Linked DNA regions of Homo sapiens: region 2 is linked to region 1. The links come from fine-mapping of genetic effects on gene expression. A gene starts in region 1. The other region holds a variant in brackets. All regions are shown on one strand. Distances are between the middles of the regions.

Region 1 (5,485 bases):
AGACTGCTTGAGCCCAGGAGTTCAAGACCAGCCTGGACAACATAGTGAAACCTTGTCTCTACAAAAAATACAAAATTAGCTGGTTGTGTTAGTGCACACCTGTAGTCTCAGCTACATGGGAGACTGAGGCCGGAGGATCTTTTGAGTGGGAGGCAGAGGCTGCAGTGAGCCGAGATTGCGCCACTGCATTCTAGCCTGGGTGACAGGGAGACTCTGTCTCAAAAACAAACAGGTCATGTGAGAAATGGCTGATAGATCACACCAGGCTTCTTAGAGCCCAGAATAGTTTGGGTCCCTTTCCCCTTTTCATAACATGATCATAGCACCTTTCATTTCCTTTTCTATCACAGCTGTAATTATTTATTTATTTATTTATTTATTTATTTGAGACAGAGTCTTGCTCTGTTGCTCAGGCTGGAGTGCAGTGGCGTGATCTTGGCTCACTGCAAGCTCCACCCCCTGGGTTTAAGCAATTCTCCTGCTTCAGCCTCCCAAGTACCTGGGATTACAGGCACCCGCCATCACGCCCAGCTAATTTTTGTATTTTTAGTAGAGATGGATTTCGCCATATTGGCCAAGATGGTCTTGAACTCCTGAGCTCAGGTGATCCCCGCCTCACCTTCCCAAAGTGCTGGGATTATAGGCGTGAGCCACCATGCCCATGCCCGGTCAATTAAGTAATTATTTAGGTTATTGTTTGTTCTTGACTAGAAAAGGACAGGGACCTCATCTGTCTATTCGTGTTGTGTTTCCAGAGCTGAGAGTTGTTCCTGGCACACACACACTGCTCCATTAATGTTTGAAGAACAAATAAATGAGAAAACGAGTATGACGGGAGAAGAGGAGCTGAGGGCCATGTGGTTGTTCACATCCTTGAAGGAGTGTTGGGAGAGGGCTCATGCTGACCTGGGTGACGCTGGACAGCAAATCCAGGGAGATCTGACAGGAAGGAATTGCCAGGAGGTAGTTTGGAGTCAAATGCACACAGTGAGGGCCAGGGGTCCTCGGGGTGGTGACAGTTTCCTCTCGCTGGAGATGCCTCAGGAGAGACCAGGCAGCTGGCACAGAGCAGGGATTTCCACATCATCTCATGCTGCTCTGGGCTGGAGGTAGATACTGGCTGCCTCTAGGCAAATGTGGCCAGCAAATGTGCTTTGTTTAGTCCCTCCCAGGGTTTAAGATATTTTTTCGAATTAGTTTCCAACATTTTAGAATCAGAAGTGTCGAAAGACAAAATGACAGCAAATTTAAAGATCCTAAGTAGCTTTTCTTCATGATTCTAGAATCGGGCAGCCCTCAGAACCAACAGGTTCAAAGGACTTTGGGGCTGCAACGTGGTTAGACAACATTTATGGACAGAAAGTGGAACTGAGGCGCAGAGACAGCTTAACTGGTTACAGGTTTATGTTCTAGCTTATTTGAATCAGCTAACCACCTGCCAATGACAGAAGCTCACTGGCTGTGATTGGCTGAGACTCAGCTGTTTGTTACAAAAGCATCCTCCTCAATTAGGGTGTCTTCTCTTTTATGTTAACTATGCCAGGCTGCAGCTCCTTATGTAAGGACTCAAGTAGGGAGGCATCCTCAGGCCTAAACATTTAACAGAAGGTGTTGCATGAAAACGCATGTTTGGGCTGGTTGCGGTGGCTCACGTCTGTAATTTAACAGGCTCCGGGGTTGGGGACCCCTGCTCTAGCTCATAGAACTCCCTCCGACTCACCCCTTCCCGCGCCCCACGTCCCTGTGAACAGTCTGTCCCTGCAGGTACCCAGTTTCTGTTCTCCGGTCTTGTTGCTATGAAGAACCCTTTCCCTCTGCTTATGTATGAAAAGAACTTAAGAAATAATCTTTTGTTATTCCTTGAAGAGTTGCGGTTTAGGATTCAGAGCACTAATGAGATTTTGTGTAACTATTCCTTGGTGTCCTGGCTTAGGGTGTGCTTTGCTTGGTATCTCCCCCTTTTAACCCCCCTCTTCCTAATATCCACCTCACCCTCCAGATTCAGCCCAAACTCTGCATTCTGTCCCCTACCTTCTCCACTCCCCCAAGGCGAGTTAGGCACCCTTCCTCACTGTAGCACCCTGAGCTAAGGCTACCTAACTTACTGTTGGTAATTTTCTTTGCCTGTAATTTCACTGAGGGCAGGAACTGTTCCTTATTCATGTCCACACTTTTCTGCCAATAGTAAGCCTGTTTACAGTTTAGTGAATGAATGAGGATACATTGCAAAGGAAGCTTGGAAGTCCTTTATTTAACTCATGCAGACCGACTTTAAACCCACAGCACACGGGAACACGGGACATTTTGAGTAATGCTCCAAAGAGAATCTCAGAAATAGCCAAACCTTGGTTCTCATCCATTCTTGATTACAGAAATGGGGAACACTGAGCCAAGATGCGAAATCAGGAAAGTGCTTTTGGTCCACTGGTCTAGCTGCAGTCTAGAAGCGGCTTGCGGGAGAAGCTACCAGAAAGAGCCCGGAAGGTTCCTGTCATCATTCGGGGTGGCAGAAGTTTGTCCTGGCTTTTAACCTTTTTTGGGGTCACAAGACCCTTAGGGAATGAATATACAGCTATAGCTCCTCTCCCTAGAAAAATGCAGACACCCATAGTGTTTTCCAGACAACTGCAGGGCATTCGTGGACTCCCGAGGCCCATCCTTACGCCCCGACACTCGGGAAGTAGGAGTGAATGAATGCGCTGTTTACCTGCCCTAGGGACAAGAGGTAAACTAAGTCATTCATTCACTCATTCCTTCTGTCTTGAGCCCCAGCTCAGGGCTAGCCTGGGTGCTCCCGGCCGTGGGGCTCCGCCCCGGCACGGGGCCACGAAGGAGGGCCACCCCCCTCGCCGCGCGCCCGCGGCCCCGCTTCCACCGCGCCGCGCCCTCTTCCGCCGTGAGAGTCGCTTCCGCGCACGTGATCTCGGCGTCGCGCTCTGATGAGTTTTCCGCGGCCGGCCGCTGCTCAGCCGCTGTCGCTCCGGCTCCGGCTGCGGCTGCCGCTGCCGAGGCTGCTGCGCGGCGCCTGGCGGGCTCGGGACGCGCGGGCCGGGGCCGAGGGCTCTGGGCGCCGAGATGGAGCCGTGAGTCCCCGGCCGAGCGGGCGGGCTGGCTGGCTCTCCGGACACTCCGGCCGAAAGTTGGGGATCCCTGGCTCCCGGCGCCGTGCCGCAGGGTCCCTGGCGCCCACGTGGAACTGGGGGCAGGGAAAAGGGCGCTGAAGGGGGCTTCGCGGGCGGGTCAGGCGGAGGTGTTTGCGCGGGGCGAGAGTAGACCGGGGCCGGGGCTCCCTCCTGCCTGCCCGCCCGGCCGCGGTTAGAGACCGGGATGCGGTCGGGGTTCCGGGACGGGGCTGCGAGCCACAGCGCTCACCGGGGGGCCGAGAGAACCGGGGGCGCTGCGGCCCTTCCCCGGCGTAGGGTGGCCGCCCGCACGGAGTCCCGCCGCCTCCCGGGCAGCCTCTCCTGCCGGAAAGGCCCCGCCCCGTCGTCCCCTCGGTATCGAGAGCGCCCCGCGCTGCCCTGCGGTCTCGCCCAGCGCCGGGTGCGAGGCTCTCAGAGGCGATTGGTGACGTGGGCACCGGGGAGCCTGCCGCAACAGCCCCTTTGGACTCGGGGTGTCGAGTTATATGAGTTTTATGCGTTTTACGATCTGCTGACTTTGGGCTTTTTTTTTTTTCTTTACCTCTTTGAAGTCCAGGGTTTTTAATGAGGAAAAACCTGTTTGGGGTCTCGTGGACGCCATCCCTAAAGCTTGCTTTTGACCCAGCAGTCGCCTAGGTGTCCCCCTGGGCGCATCTGGAAAAGAAGGAGACGGAGTTAACCAGAGGGTTAGCGCCGCGTGGAGTTGCAGAAAGTCCGGGAGAAGGAGTGGCCCATATGTGCAGCCGCGCCTGGCGCAGGAGGCTTCCAGGGCCGGCTCCCTGCACTGAAGGCAGCCTCCGAGGGGCCTGGGCGCGCTTCTTGGCTTATATGCGGTTTTTGAGGCAGAAGGGTTTTGCTTTGGATCTTTGCTGATTTCTCTGGCTGTGGACGTGGTCAGAGAAGTGACACCCAGGCCTGTTGCCTCAGCGCAAGTGCCTGTGACAGAGAGATCTGTTTTTCCTTCTGCTTCCTTAGAAGTTTCTGACTTTGGTATGTTGCTTTAGCACCTCTTGGGAAACTGGAATGGCATCAAATATCAGACCTATGTGGATGTTTTAAAGATTTTAAAAGCCAAGTGGAGGTAGGTTAGCAGTATTGCCTCTGCACAACTCCAGAGGGCAAGATTCTTGTGCGGCCTATGTAAATAATACTGCTTGGAACGGTGTCTTGTGGAACTGTGGCCTTGTAGCAGAGTGACAGCTGCGTGTTACAGGAGTTCTCTCACGCGCTGCCCCTTGGAGCTGCATAGGTGGGCTGGGTGTGCTTTTTCAGTAGGAGAGAGGCCGGGGACGTGAGGTGGTGAGGGCCTTGGCCAGGACAGGGATCTGGGTCTTCTGCCAGGGTCCTGCGCTGTTACAGGACAGGGAACTAGACCAAAGAAAGCAGTTGACCAAGGAAAGGTCCCGAGGAGGACAAGCAAAACGCAGCTTGAATTTTGTGCGAGTTTGAGGCCTCCCCCTGCAGCTGTAAGCGCTTTGTGCCTCAGGCTCTGTGGAGCACTAAGAGGGTTAGGGAAGACGGAGGGGGATGAGGGTATCTGGAAATCAGCCCACCACCATCGGCCAGCATTCCAGGCACCTACCTGGAAACTGAGAAGAGTTTGGTAGCAGATAAAATCCTCCTAAAAAACAAGCCTGAAAATCCGAAGTGCGTCCTGGACTTAGGTGACTGAGTGTTCTCTGTCCTTGTCTGGTGTGCCTGAGAGCCCAGAGGTGAGAAAGGTGAGAAAGAAGAGAAGTCCAGGGAAAGAATGGGAGAGAACAGAGCCGCTTGGAGGAGCAGGGGCAGCTCCACCACTCTGCTTACGGTGTGTAGGGGACCGTCCCCCTGCAGACCCTGGCCTTATGACCTCTGACTCTCATTCGGCCCAGCCTGCTCTTTAAAAATGTAGGAGAGATTGCCATCAAAACTCATCAGCAAAAAAGGTTAGCAGTTCTTAACAGTTTTACCTTGAACTCTCCTGCAGTCTCCATTCCTTCTCTGATGATGCTAGGGACGGGAGAGGTGCTAGGAGTCTGAGGACGGTGTGGGGCGTCTCATTTGCTAACCTGACTTGTTTGAGCTACAGGGCTGCACGGAGTTGAGACTCTCATGCTCACATGTTGCTTTGGTCTTACTTTAGCATTTCTCTGCAAATTTAAATAAGGCTGTTTTTGTGTGTGTGTGTGTGTGTGTGTGTGTGTCTTGCTTGGCACGTGAAGCCATTTTTTAGTGTGTATTTTATGTGTCTTTTTCATCCTGGGGGCATTTCAATGTAGAAGTGTATTAATTAGAACCACCTTCGGCTAGCAGCAAAGCATGGCACAGACAAATTAAGTATCCTGGAGCCCTGCTGTGGTTTC
Region 2 (5,230 bases), 64 kb after region 1:
GAAAAATAGGTTTATTTTGGACAATAAACCTGAGAGGGCCTTCTGGCCAAGTTAGGTCAGAGGCACTCTCTTACGGGCTAAGAGTATTTAAGCGTTCAGGGTGGGAGAGCTTATCACAGGCTCGAAATGTTTCTGTGTGTCTCTTTGTCTTGCTTATCTGGAAGGGAGAGTTTTGTGTCTGTTCCCCATACATCTTCCTGCAACTGCAGGCATAGCCCCCACGTCTGCTTTTAGCTTTCCTATCTTGGTGCACCTAAAGGGAAACGAATGTGCTTATTAGGACCCACTGTTCTACTGGGGCACATGGTATGAGTGTGAAGTTTGGTGCTTACCCAAGAGACTTTCCCCTCTCTGTCTGTGCCCAGCTGTGTTATCTGTGTTTTACTATCTGCTCTTTCTGGCTGCTGCTTGTTAGAATCTCGAGAAGTGATTTCCTTGAAATGCAGGAGGTTAGAAAGGGAGCTGGCACTGAAAGTGGCAGTGTTTGTCCAAGATGAAGGTGCTCCTGCTCTGTCAAGGAGGAGGAGTTACTTCTGCGGCAGGATGAGCCCCAGGATAACCTCGGCGAAGCAAGCCACACCATCCTCTTCCTGGGTTTTCAGGCGCTTGGGGCTACCAGCCCGTCCTGAACCCAACACAGAGCTCTGAGCTGGCCAGCTGAGGGGGCCACATCACCGGACTCCCGGAGGCAGCTGCGCTTGCTGGGACACCTTCCCACATTCTGCTCTGGTGGTACCTGACCTTGTGCCAATCCAGCACCATGGACCCCCTTCCCTCTTCCTCCCACTGCCCATCACAGTTCTCACAGTTTCAGAGATGCCAGCGTGCTTTGGAGAAGTCAGAATGATCCGATATTTACTAAAGGCTTTGGTTTGGCTTCCAAGCTCAGTGTGCTTCTGAGATCACCAAGCGCTTCTGTCTGCGCAGGCCACTTCACAGATGCCTAACTGCTTCAGGGGCTACAGAGCACTTTGATTACTTTGCAATACAAAGTCCAGAGCTGTCAAAGCGCTTCCGAAGACCACAAAGGGCTTTAAGGTCCACACATGGCTGCTGGACCCATGGGCTCCCGCAGCTCGCCCACCTGCCCTGGGCTGGAAGGGGCCCAAGCGCCCCTCAGAGCCAGCCGCACCCCTGAAGGCTGCCTCCGGACAGCCCACCTGGCTGCCGAGGCCCAGACACCCGCCCTGCCTGCCCCGTTGGGCCGCCCACACTGTTCTGCCCTGCCTGACCTCTGCCCAAGATGACACCACTCTGACCTCCCCAGCGCCTGCCCTCTGGTATGTTTTTCTCTATACATACATACCTATGATAAAGATTATTTGTTAGGCTAATAATAACCAATAAAATAGAAAAACTATAACAATATATTATAATAAAAGTTGTGTGACGTGCTCTCTCTTTTTCAAAATATCCTGTATTCTTATGATGATGATGTGAGATGCCCCAGTCCCTGTGTGTGGGATAAGTGAGGGGAATGGTGTAGGCATTGTGACATAGGGCTAGGCTGCTCCTGAGCTTCCTGTGATATGTCGGGAGGGTCACGCAGCCATGACAGTGTCGGTGGTTGTGTGTCAGGAGCAGATGATGTGGCCGACTGACGGGCGAGCCACGTTTGCAGCCGGGGTACACAGGACAAAGGGGTGGCACACATCCCTGGGGGGATGGTGCAGGATGTCATCGTGCTATCAGATTGGCATGCAATTTAAAACTTAGGGAATGCTTTTTTCTGGAATGTCCCATTTAACGTTTTCTGACTGCAGCTGATTTCAGTTAACTGAAACTGCAGAAAGTGAAACCATGGGTAAGTAGGGACAGCTGTATGACTTGAACTGACACATTCGTTTTTGCTTAAATGAGTTGTGGAGAATCCACAATTCTACTGGTCTATGATGAAAGATGAAAAAGACCATGTCCTTTTCAATTTCTCCTTTAGAGAGGGGAGACCTTGTTGTAGGAGTGAATCTTGGGTGGCTCCTGGCTTTCCACTGTCCACCGATGCTCTGCTGTGTCCACACACTTTCAAGCCCTATGCCCGCTCCCACGCTTGCTCTTTATGAGTGCTTTTGTCCTGTAAAATGGCCCCACAGCAGAAGCCTAGTGTGGTAGCAGCCTGGTTCACATGAATAGGACTTTCACGGAGTAGCTCCGTTTCCAGGTGTGACTTCGGAGCCCAGCATGCCTAGTTTCATGCCACAGTGACCCAAGTGAGTCACCCCGTCTGCTCCAGTCCCCTGTCCCCAATTCCCTGTCATCTCAGCCACCCATTTTCATTTTGAAAATCAATCTCATGGAAGTTTCTATTTGCTTTTATTGCTTTCTTTGTTTTCTTGTCTATTTCCTAGTACTCATACGTGCCATTAAAAAGGTGACTGGAAAAACAGCTCTTAAAACTGCAAGAGAAATAGTATATAGGGTTTTGTGTAATAAAAAATACTGCAACTTTCCAATACTGATAAATGTGGACCCTTGGTAGGATTGTATAGTTTTTTCATGTGAAATATGAAATTCAGGATTTCTCATAAATTTAGGATTGCTTTGTAAAAATCCTTCACTGTTGGTAGGAAGTAGTTTATATTAATAAGTAAAAAAAACAAAAAGTCAATAAGAAAAAATGTAAAATAAAAAGTAAAGGTAGTTATTAATCTATAATTATTTATAATGTCAATTTTTAGAGTTAACGAATTACATGATCCAATGTACCAGTATCGAGTTGATACCGGAAATTTTCAGGTAAGGATTGTTAATGAGGCCTGCAATTTTTCTTCTTAATGCTGTTTTGTAAAATTACTGAATTTTGTGACTTAAATTGTTCTGTTGAGCTTTTTGCTAACTGACTACTTGGGAAGGACTACATAGAAAGTTCAAGGGTGGAAGATTTGGGGAAATTTTTTTTTTTTTTTTGAGTTGGAGTCTTGCTCTGTCGCCCAGGCTGGAGTGCAGTGGTGCAATCTCAGCTTACTGCAGCCTCCGCCTCCTGGGTTCAAGTGGTTCTCCTGCGTCAGCCTTCTGAGTAACTGGGACGATAGGCGTGCGCCACCACACCTGGGTAATTTCTGTATTTTTAGTAGAGATGGGGGTTTCACCATATTGGCCAGACTGTT[C/T]TCAAACTCCTGATCTCAAGTGATCTACCCATCTCGGCCTCCCAAAGTGCTGGGATTACAGGCGTGAGCCACTGTACCCGGCAGAAAAGCTCTTTAAAACAATGTTTTTACTCCCAGTCTTTGGTTTGTGGCTGACGCAGTTTGAGGCCCTGTCACTGTGGTTCTGGTCGGCTGCTCTTCCTTCCCAGTCAGGTGTCGGGGAGAACCAGCCATGTGGGCTCTGGAACAGACCCCAGGGCCCACGTCTGTTGCTGAAGGAGACACCGGAGAGCAGAGCCTTCTCGGTGCTAAACACGCTGGTCTAGTCCAGTCCCTTTGCTTTACGTAAGGTCCCAGCTAAAGTCACTTAGGTGCTTTTGAGAAAAATGATCCCGATTCCTGCTGTGCTGTCCTGTGCTCTGAGCCTTGACTGTAAGAGGGGAGCTCTGGCGCTGAGAGGACAGGAAAGGGGTGGGGGGATGGCGTGGGCCGGAGCCATCGAGGAGCGGGGACTGCGTCTAAAGACACTGTCCACCCCGCGGCCTGGCCCTTGTCAGAACCCACGGGCCTGCCCTCCCCATCACAGCTCCATCTTCAGAAAAGGGCTTTGGCTTGCTGTGACATTACAGAATTGTGCACTTTTAGACCTTAGGTCCTGTAGGGCATTTAATTCAAGCCCCTCGTGTCACAGATAAGAAAACAGAGGTCGGGAATGGTTGATGGTTAAGACGGCGCGTGGATTCCCAGGGCCTAGCCTGGGTCCTTTCTTGGACACCTGCCACCTTCCCACATGCAGGGGCAGGGTGGGGAGCCAGCCCCTCGCCCCCAGGGGCGAGAGAGACAGATAGTGGCCACCGCAGTCTGAGCACCCACTGTGCCTGGACAGGTCCCTGGTGGGAGGGGTTTGGGCTCTGCTCCGCTGATTTGCAAGGCCTGGGGTGTCGTCCACCTCAGGGGAGCTGCCTGTGCTCGCAGCGGGACTGAGCAGATGGTCCCGGCTGGGAGCCCATTGTTCTGCTTCCTGGAGGGACCTTCAGGGTTGAAGTCCCTTCTAAAAACCTGTGGCTTTCCTGCCTGTGGTGGTGCTGGGAGGAGAAGGTCACAGAGGCCCTGTTCCGACTCAAGTGCTGCCTTGTGTCCTCCTAGGGAATGAAGGTCTTCTTCATGGTGGTGGCAGCGGTGTACATTCTGTACCTCTTGTTCTTGATAGTGCGGGCGTGTTCCGAGCTACGTCACATGCCTTATGTGGGTAAGTGCTCCTTTCAGAATCGGTGCAGGGGTGGCTTGGGAGTGACTCAGGTGGGGGAAGAAGTGGTTGGAGTCTCCCAAGCCAGGGGCCTTCCTTGAGGGCCCAGGGACTGGTCCATTCCCACAGGCTGGGGACCAGGGCACGTGGTCCCTGGGAGCCACAACAGGCCTTACAGGTTACTCTGGCATTTGGGACCATCAGAGTGGCCTGGGTCCTGCGGGACTGTACCCTGCAGAGCAGGGCGAGTCACCCTGAGCTTGCGGGATCCTTTCCTGAATCTGTCCCCACCAGAGGATGGTGGCTGTGGCCTCCCTGGACACCATCCTGGCCCTGGGAAGGGACCAACGTTCTCCTAGGCTGCTGGCGACTCCGGCTAAGTCTGGAGGGAGGAGCATTTGTCCAAAGAGCTTTGCTTAATTTTTGTTTTTTATTTTTCAAAATAAAATGCAAGTGGAATTTACTTCCAGAGTTGTTAATGAGTTTCTTTCTTTTTCAGATCTCAGGTTGAAATTTTTGACTGCATTGACTTTCGTAGTACTTGTCATTAGGTAAGAAGACCTTATTTCTTGAAAACAGCAAAACGGAATTTTTCTTTTACTGTCAGGAATATCTGTTGCCTCCTTTTGTGGAGTGGATTTCAGGGTACTTCTAGCCCAGTAGACTCATGAGGTTAGAGGGCCTCCCACCAAGGCTGGGCAGCCGAGAGCAGCCGTCAGCCTGGAGAGCATGTTTTTGTTGTAAGCGGCCGAGGACTGGAGCACGTTCACTTGCACACTCGGCCCGCGCTGGGCATGTTCTGTCCTTGCTGTGCCACCTGCTATGTGTGCAGCGTGCAGTCACCAGCTGGAAGTAAGGGCACTGGGGACCTCGGGATCCTTGGGGTGCCCCAGGGACAGGA

What was found.
Region 2: its variant is fine-mapped to the expression of TMEM181 in thyroid (GTEx, PIP 0.97).

The regions. Positions count from the first base shown.
Region 1 is chr6:158,557,150-158,562,634 of GRCh38, forward strand. TMEM181 (transmembrane protein 181) reads left to right here and starts at 2,942. Exons shown (of 17, transcript NM_001376852.1): 1 at 2,942-3,083. The coding sequence starts at 3,076. RefSeq lists a silencer at 2,633-3,552 and enhancers at 3,972-4,473, 4,474-4,973.
Region 2 is chr6:158,620,875-158,626,104 of GRCh38, forward strand. It overlaps TMEM181 (transmembrane protein 181), which reads left to right. Exons shown (of 17, transcript NM_001376852.1): 11 at 2,676-2,733; 12 at 4,230-4,332; 13 at 4,829-4,880. Among named protein-coding and RNA genes, the nearest start is that of MIR7161, 14 kb to the left of the region's middle. The variant C/T (reference allele first, on the strand shown) is at 3,105.